3 linked regions of the Homo sapiens genome follow. The protein of the gene in region 1 purifies or fractionates together with the protein of each later gene. This does not show direct contact. Each region holds a gene or a part of one and is shown in the gene's direction. Other genes may lie near its edges.

Evidence for each region. The genes of interacting proteins can lie anywhere in the genome.
Region 2: the proteins of DFFB (region 1) and NUBP1 fractionate together in Homo sapiens (co-fractionation; one large-scale study listed by BioGRID). This does not show direct contact.
Region 3: the proteins of DFFB (region 1) and PIP4P2 purify together in Homo sapiens (co-immunoprecipitation; one large-scale study listed by IntAct). This does not show direct contact.

What each region holds. Positions count from the first base shown.
Region 1 is NC_000001.11:3,881,476-3,883,702, forward strand, and holds part of DFFB (DNA fragmentation factor subunit beta), read left to right. Parts: intron 1-2,031; coding exon 2,032-2,227. UniProt on the Homo sapiens protein: Nuclease that induces DNA fragmentation and chromatin condensation during apoptosis. Degrades naked DNA and induces apoptotic morphology.
Region 2 is NC_000016.10:10,753,842-10,757,341, forward strand, and holds part of NUBP1 (cytosolic Fe-S cluster assembly factor NUBP1), read left to right. Parts: intron 1-1,879; coding exon 1,880-1,912; intron 1,913-2,848; coding exon 2,849-2,939; intron 2,940-3,476; exon of another isoform or gene 3,477-3,500. UniProt on the Homo sapiens protein: Component of the cytosolic iron-sulfur (Fe/S) protein assembly (CIA) machinery. Required for maturation of extramitochondrial Fe-S proteins.
Region 3 is NC_000008.11:91,034,360-91,037,859, reverse strand, and holds part of PIP4P2 (type 2 phosphatidylinositol 4,5-bisphosphate 4-phosphatase), read left to right. Parts: intron 1-3,500. UniProt on the Homo sapiens protein: Catalyzes the hydrolysis of phosphatidylinositol-4,5-bisphosphate (PtdIns-4,5-P2) to phosphatidylinositol-4-phosphate (PtdIns-4-P).

The sequences.
Region 1 (2,227 bases):
AACCCTGGTAGGCCCCTGGACCATAGCTTGCCTGTGTGCACTAATTTCTCTTTGGTTTCTGGCAGCTGGGGAGCCCCTTTCTTTTGATCTCAACTAAGTATTTTAACAAGGTGACTTTTGGCTGGGTGTGGTGGCTCATGCCTATAATCTCAGCACTGTGGGAGGCCAAGGTCAGGAGTTCAAGGCCAGCCTGGCCAACACGGTGAAACCCCATCTACTAAAAATACAAAATACAAATACAAAAATTAGCTGGGTGTGGTGGCGCACGCCTGTAATCCCAGCTACTCAGGAGGCTGAGGCAGGAGAATGACTTGAACCCAGGAGGCGGACATTACCGTGAGCTGAGATCGTGCCACTGCACTCCAGCCTGGGTGACAGAGCAAGACTCTGTTTCAAAAAAAAAAAAAAGGCGACTTTTGCTCAGCATTTTGTGGGTTGTAGGGAGAGGGGTCTGCACCAGTTTAGCTCACTCAACACCCACCATAAGCCCTCCTGGCCGTGGGGTCTCTAAACCCCACTTGTTACTGCACAGTCTTCCAAATGGTTTATAAGTGAAACAACATCATGTTGTGTGTGTATGTGTGTGCGTGTGTGTTTGGGACAGTCTCACTCCAACCAGGCTAGAATGCAGTGGTACGATCTTGGCTCACTGCAACCTCCGCCTCCTGGGTTCAAGTGATTTTCGTGCCTCAGCCTCCTGAGTAGTAGCTGGGATTACAGGCGTGCGCCACTATGCCTGGCTAATTTTTTTGTCATTTTTGTAGAGGTGGGGTTTCACCATGTTGGCCAGGCTGGTCTCAAACTCCTGGCCTCAAGTGATCACCCACCTCATCCTCTCAAAGTGTTAGAATTACAGACGTGAGCCACCACGCCTAGCCTCATGTAGTTTTTTGTTTTCTTTTTTTTTTCAGACAGAATCTCACTCTGTTGCCCAGGCTGGAGTGCGGTGGCACAATCTTTCTCTCTGCAACCTCTGCCTCCAGGGTTCAAGCAGTTATCCTGCTTCAGCCTCCTGGGCAGCTGGGATTACAGGCATGCATCACCATGCCCAGCTAATTTTTGTATTTTTAGTAGAGATGAGGTTTCGCCATCTTGGCCAGGCTGGTGTTGAACTCCTGACCTCAGGTGATCCGCACGCCTCAGCCTCCCAAAGTGCTGGGATTACAGGTGTGAGCCACTGCGCCTGGCCTCATTTGTTTCTTAAACAGATACGCATATATGCATATAACGGTATAAGATTAGGATTGGAAAGATCAATAGCAAACCCTTAATAGTGATTACCTCTGAGGGGAAGGAGGGACATAAGATTACAAGTGGTATCAAAAGTGACTTCAGCTTCCTTTGTAAGGCTCTGTTTGTAAAACTTTCATGTTCTATCATGTAATTTTTTGGGGGTAAATGTATACGTAGATGAAACGTGGAGGCAGTTAAGCCAGTTGTTGATGGTGGGTGACTGTAAGTGATGGAAAGGTGGTTGACCCCCTTTATTTTCTGCGTACTTTTCAGTATTCTGAACAGTGACACGAGTCTTTTTTTTTTTTTTTTGAGATGGTGTTTTGCTTTTGTTGCCTAGGCTGGAGTGCGGTGGCGTGATCTTGGCTCACTGCAACCTCCACCTCCAGGGTTCAAGTGATTCTCCTGCCTCAGCCTCCCAAGTAGCTGGGATAACAGGTGCCCACCACCAAGCCCAGCCAATTTTTTGTATTTTTAGTAGAGATGGGGTTTCACTATGTTGGCCAAGCTGGTCTCGAACTCCCAACCTCAAGTGATCCACCCGCCTCGGCCTCCCAAAGTGTTGGGATGACAGGCGTGAGCCGCCGTGCCCGGCCACAAGTCAAGTTTTAAAAAGTAAGAGGAGCCAGGCTGCTTGCATCAGGCTCTGCTCAACAAACCTGGCCAGTAGGTGCGGCCGTGTGTCCGTGATAGCACTTAGGGGAATTTGTGAAGAGCTGTGACTGCAATACACTGCTATGACCTGTTGCCTGTGGCACTGTGACCACAGAAAATGATGTCTCTAACCTTACTTTGCAGAATAGAAAAGAAACGCACCATCATTCCTACACTGGTGGAAGCAATTAAGGAACAAGATGGAAGAGAAGTGGACTGGGAGTATTTTTATGGCCTGCTTTTTACCTCAGAGAACCTAAAACTAGTGCACATTGTCTGCCATAAGAAAACCACCCACAAGCTCAACTGTGACCCAAGCAGAATCTACAAACCCCAGACA
Region 2 (3,500 bases), on another chromosome or scaffold:
GACACAAGGTGTCCTTGTGTCCTCAGTGGAGTGACCAGAGGGGCTGGAGGGTGGCCCGAAGCAGATGGGGCCGGCCTTGCAGGCACTTCTAAGGCCTTGGGGTTTGCTTCCGAGGGAGTAGGGAAGGAGAGCGATGTCACCCTGTGAGGCTTGGTCACATACCCCAATGGATTTGGTAGCACACGCCACAGTGAAGGTATAAGCTACTGTCATCACACGTAATTATTTCATGAAACAGAAAATTTTAAAATAAAAGAAAATAGAAGTTTCCCTATTTTCTTCTCCTGCACTATTGGATCATCCTGTTTACCCCTCTTTTAAGACAAATGGACTTAGCAAACGAGTGTAAATAGGAATGAATGGTTTTGTGGGGTTTATTTTATTTTATTTTATTTTATTTTATTTTATTTATTTTATTGAGACAGAGTTTCACTCTTGTTGCCCAGGCTGGAGTGCAGTGTCGCGATCTCGGCTCACCACAACCTCCGCCTCCCGGGCTCAAGCAGTTCTCCTGCCTCAGCCTCCTGAATAGCTGGCATTACAGACACACGCCACCACGTCCAGCTATTTTTTGTATTTTTAGTAGAGTTGGGGTTTCACCATGTTGACCAGGCTGGTCTCGAACTCCTGACCTCAGGTGATCCTCCCGCCTCAGCCTCCCGCAGTGTTTGGATTACAGGTGTGAGCCACTGTGCCTGGCTGGGTGTCTTTTAATAGAACTTCGAAGTCAGTCACAGAGGACCGCATGTTGTGTGATTCCACTTACATGAAATGTGCAGAATAGGTCAGTCCACAGTGAGAGAAAGTGGATTAGGGGTCCTGTAAGGCTGGGAGGATGTGAGACAGACTGTGGGGGGTGGTGACAGCTGAGGGGTATAGGGATTCTTCTTAAGAGTCAGGCAAATGTTCTAAAATTGTGGTGACTGGGTACAGTGGCTCACACCTGCAATCCCAACACTTTGGGAGGCCAAGGCGGGTGGATCACTTGAGGTCAGGAGTTTGAGACCAGGCTGGCCAACATGGTGAAACCCCGTCTCTACAAAAAATACAAAAATTAGCTGGGCATGGTGGCGGGCACCTATAATCTCAGCTACCTGGGAGGCTAAGGCAGGAGAATCACTTGAACCTGGGAGGTGGAGGTTGCAGTGAGTCAGGATCACGCCACTGCACTCCAGCCTGGTCGACAGGGCAAGACCCCATCTCAAAAATAAAAATAAAAAATAAAACTGTGGTGATGGCTGCATGCTTGTGACTGTACAGAAAGCCACTCATTCAATGGGTGAGTCATATTGTCTATGAATCATGTCTCAGTAAATCTGTTGAGAAAAGTAAGGCTTCATCAAGAAAATTAAACTTTCAGTGTGCGCTTTGTGTGCTGCTGGACACCTGCTGGGGGGAAGAGGTCTGAATCTTGTTGCCCCAGGAAGCTCCCCTTTGTGGCTGGAGCTGATTGGGGACAGGTTCTGAATCAGCTGTTTCGTGAGAGCTCATTCCCTTCACTCCTGTGCTTTTACAAAAGCCACCTCATTGCTCCACAGGTATCTGCATTTTCTCATCAGTCCCCAGCCGATTTTTATGACTCTTTTAAGATACCTTAGACACAACATCATATTTGAACTTGAGTAACTTTGGTTCCCTATCTAGACATCCAAGTAGAGTTTCCAAATAACCCAGCTTAGGGCACAAAGGGAGTTGAGTTGCATCTTTATTACCCACGCCCTAGCTGTTCACCTCCTTTTAGGAATTTCGTGGTACCATGTAAGACAATGAATTATATTTTAAAAAACCATCGTCTTACTTTGTACAATTTGTCTGTGCATGAAATGTGACCAGGGTACATGATTTCTACTAATGAACATCGGTGCTCATGTTCACACAGGTTCACCAGAGTGGCTCAGGCTGGTCTCCAGTGGTGAGTTTTCACCTCTTTGCCCTATTTTCACAGTAGTGTGTGGTTGTGTGTACATAATGGGTTTGTGGTTTGTTGGTCCATAGGTATTTATTAGGGTACTTTTCGAGGCACAGAGGATGTGATTAAAACCAGTGATTGGCAGGCTTTTTCTGTAAAGTGTGGGACGGTAAAGATTTTCAGCATGTGGGCCTACATTCCTTGCTGTTGTAGCACAAAAGTAGTAATATGTAACTGAACAACCAGGACAGTATTCCAATAAAAGTTTATTTACAAACACAGATGGTGGGCCAGATTTGGCCCTGAAGTCCATAGTTTGTAAATCTCTGGTTAAGAGAGTTAAGGAGGCAGGGTGCAGTGGCTCACACCTGTGATCCCAGCACTTTAGGAGGCCAAGCCAGGCAGATCACTTGAGGCCAGGAGTTCGAGACCAGCCTGGCCAACATGGCGAAATCCCATCTCTACTAAAGATACAAAAATTAGCCGAGCATGGTGGCACGCGCCTGTAACACTGGCTACTCGGGAGGCTGAGGCAGGAGAATTGCTTGAACCCGGGAGGCAGAGGCTGCAGCAAGCTGAGATTGCACCATGCACTCCAGCCTGGGCAACAGAGCCAGACTTCATCTCAAAAAAATGAAAAATAAAAAAATAAAAGAGTTAAGGAGATGACATTTACTTATTTTAGCTGAGTTCCCTGTCATTGCCGTCACTGCAGCCCATGGACATACAGTGCCTCTTTCAAATCCCCCAACATGGTACCCTTTTTTTTTTTTCCAAAAATGATTTAGGAGCAAAGAGTGAATATGCTCATAGGTCACATGGTAGTTTTGTCCTGAAAATGTTTTTTTCAGTCAGAGCTCAAACAGAAGACCTGGGGGAGGGCCTCACTGTGTGGTTTTGAGTAAAGCGTGTCTTGCCCTCACCCTGTTCCCTCTGCAGTACGTGGAAGACAACCTGGGGGTGATGTCAGTGGGCTTCCTGCTCAGCAGTCCTGATGATGCTGTTATCTGGAGGGGACCCAAGAAAAACGGTTTGCCACTCTGCCTTTTTTTGTCTCTCACATTCTTCCACGAGCGTTGTGGCTCTTGGCTTTATCTGCTCCCTGTCCTGCCAGTCTCAGCCTGCTGGACTTCACAGTATATTATTTTTAACCATCCAGTGCCTCTTTCTTCACTGGTTGAAAAGAGCTAATAGAAATACCAGTTTCCATTACGTAATTATAAATATCTGCTGTGAGTTTTTCTCTCCTTAAAAGCTGTAGAACCCTGGTCGGGTGTGGTAGCTCACGCCTGTAATCCCAGCACTTTGGGAGGCCGAGGCAGGTGGATCACCTGAGGTCAGGAGTTCAAGACCAGCCTCGCCGACATGGTGAAACCCTGTCTCTACCAAAAACATAAAAAATTAGCCGAGCATGGTGGCACGTACCTGTAATCCCAGCTACTCGAGAGGCTGAGGCAGGAGAACCCAGGAGGCGGAGGTTGCAGTGAGCCAAGATCATGCCACTGCACTCCAGCCTGTGTGACAGAGCGAGACTTTTTCTCAAAAAAAAAGCTATAGAACCCTGAAATTATTTTTATCATGGTTTTATAGT
Region 3 (3,500 bases), on another chromosome or scaffold:
GCTAATTTTGTAGTTAGGATATAACAAAAGAATATGACCTTTGAATTTATAAGATTTTTTCTGTGAAAATTGTTTATATCTGGGGTTGTCTCATTATGTATTCAATATGGAAATGGGATTATATACTTCACTATAATTCATAAAGGGAAAATAATAATTTGTTATACAGAGGCAGACAGTTTGATTTACTTAGTTTATTATTCAGCAAATAAATATTTGAGTACCAGCCAAATCTGTGGTAGGAGAAGAAAAATAGTCATGGCTCCTCTTCCAGTGTAGTGGGGGTATTGAGAAATAAATTATGTAATCACACAAACAGATGCAAAATGCAATGGTGATGAAGACAGTGCTGGAAATATATGCAATACCTTGAGAGTATAAATTAAGATTTAATTTTGTTGAGGGAGTCGGGGAAGGCTTTCTTGATGCTTGAATGAGATCTGAAAGTTGAGCAAGAGTTAACTTGGCAAAAGGTGGACTGGAAGACCATTATAGGCAAAGAAAGCAGTATTGGCAAAGTGATCAGCAGGGTGGAGTATGACAAATACAAGGAACTTAAGGAAGGCCAACGTGGCTAAAATGGAAACAGCAGTAGGAAATGCACTGCAAAATGGGACTGGAGAGATAGGTATGGTGGATATTCTCCGAAGACTCTCTTTCCCCTTCAAAGAACTATGTCTTCTGATATTCAGTTTCCTCCCCTTGAATCTGGGCTGATGCCATGACTTGATTTTGACCTCTAGAATAAGGTAGAAAATATGCTGAATGACTTTGGAGGGTAGGTCAGAAGAGGTTTTACAGCTTTTATCTTGGTCTTTTGTAAAGTACACTCTGGGGAAAGTAACTTGTCATGTAAGAAGTGGAACACTCTGAGACTGCCATGCTTTATGGAACCTGAAACTAGCCTGGTAGAGAGAAAGATGCCTGACCAGCCCTCAGACATGTGAAGGGAGATGCCATCTTGGATGCCAAGCTCAATTGAGCCTTCACATGACTCCAGCCTTAGCCAAATTCTTACTACAACCACATGTGGCCAACTTGTTCTGCAGCAACAGATGACCAGAATAATGAATATGAATCAGCCCATCCAGGATATTGTTGGTCATGTTAAGGAATATTGCCATAAGCAAAGGGATGACTGGATTAAATCTTTATTATTAGTTTTTAAACCACTCTATAGATTAGAGAATGAATTAGAGGATTGGCTAGAGTAGACAAGAATAGATGACTTCCTTGATTATTGTAATAATTCGGGCAATTTAACTGAACTATTTCAGTAGCTTGGACTCAGGTGGTGGTAGAGATGGAGAGATGAAGGATGATGTTAAGGAGGTGGATTGAACAGGGCTTGATGATGGATTGCACATGGAAGTGAGGGAGAAGTGTCAAGGGTATCTCCTAGAATTCTGGCTATGCAACGTCATGGTGTGATTACCAGAACACCAGAAGACGGAGAACACCAGAAGAGGACCGAGTTTTGGGGAACACGGATAATGAACTTAGTTTTAGACATGATGTATTTCAGATGCTTTCAAATATCCAAGAAGAGATGTGACAATTGGATCTACAGATCCCATTTCTGGCAAAATGGGACCTGTAGTGTAGATCCGGTTGTCATATCTCTTCTTAGTCCTCGTTTCTTAGGACTAAGAAACGGGGCCTGGGCTGAATATATAAAATTGTGTGTTATTTGCATATTGGTGATAGCTAAATACATGGATGTTGATTCAGAACTTCCCAGGGCCCTACCATAAGATGTGCTGTGATGGAACATACATGTGCTAAGGTAGTGATTAAAGCCTTCAGGCCAGAGGCCTCCAGTTTTTTTGGTTTTGTTTTTTTTTTCTTGAGACAGGTTCTTACTCTGTTGCTCAGGCCGGAGTGCAGTGGTATACTCATAGCTCACTGCAGTCTTGACCTCTCAGGCCCAACTAATCCTCCCACCTCAGTCTCCTGAGTAGCCACCACACTCGTCTAATTTTGTTGTATTTTTTATAGAGATGAGGTTTCACCAGCTTGCCCAGGCTGGTGTCAAACTCCTGGGCTCAAGCAATTTGCCTGCCTTGGCCTCCCAAAGTGCCAGGATTACAGGCATGAGCCACCACACCAGGCCCAGCGACCTCCAGTTCTAAGATGTCATACACATATTGTCATTTTCTCTGTGTACCACAGTGTGAAAAACTTTGAGGCGCTCCATATGAGATAACCTAGGGAGAAAGAGTAATCTAAGAAAAGGAGAAAGCCTGGACAAAGCTTTGAAAAACCTTCACATTTAATGACTAGGGAGAGGAAGGTGAATGTAGCTGCCGGCAAGGTGACAAAAACCAGGAGATGATAATATCACAGAGTCAAGAGCAAGAAAATACTTCAAGAAAGGAGTCTTCATGCAAAAGTTTAAGAAAGAGCAAAGATGGTAAGGACCAAAAATGTCTTTTGAAGTTAGTGTCATGGAGATCATTAGGGACTTTAGTGACAGTTGTTTATATTTGTTTATATTCAAGCTCTTTTTAAAGAATTGAAGAATTATCTATTTCCATCTAATGTAATATTCCAATGTACCTTTATTTTAATTGTAAACTGACCTCAAAGCAGCTTAACATAAATGAAAAGGTTAATATTCCTTTACTCTGAAGCTCATTTAGGTTTTCTATGAAGCGTAATTGTCATAATTGTGTTTTAGAAGACATTGCCATATCCTTTTCACCTTTAAAAAACATGTAATCTTGAAATTGCTTGAGAAAATGTTTTCAGTGAGTAGAAAAATAAAATAAATTGACTCCTGGTTTTGAGACATATCATTTAATATGTACTCTTATGCTTTCTTAGAAATCCTACAGTAAATAGGTTTATTTTTAGTGACTCTCATGTCCTATACCTGGAGAAATCTAAGGTTAGAGATAGTGTCTTAGTTTAAAGTTAGGTAAGGTCTTAGTTCATTTTTAACTATGTTCTACACTAGGCTAGACTTTTACTGAATTAAAGAGATTGAATACATTTTGGCAGTCTTTTAAATTGCTGAGTCTCCCTGCGTACTTGCAGAGTATAAGGTTGTCTGTGGATTGGCAGGAAGAGATGACACAGATCCAGGGACTCTTACCACATGCACAACCCATTGTAAGACTAGATTAAATTCTCACTTTACTTGCCAAGGATTCGGAAACCCACTGGAAGCCAGATTGTCACAATGAGGAGAAAAGGATGCAGGATATTTGAGAGCAGCTTCCTGAAGCTCCCCCAAGCCCCAGTAGAGTGTTCACCTGCTGTGATACTGAGCAAGCAGGGCCTTGGCAAATATGAGAAGCCTATTGTGCTATGCTAATGCTAATGCTCCATTTAAGGGAATTTTTTTCAAAATGGTTCTTGAATCAAAATTTGCTTCACTGAGGCCACATCCTCTTCAAGGAAAAATAGAGCCCACACATTGGTGAAATAGATCGGCTTCTAGCTTTCCAGTATGGTGGTGAGCTCATTTGCTGTTGTAGTCTTTTTGTCATTATTCT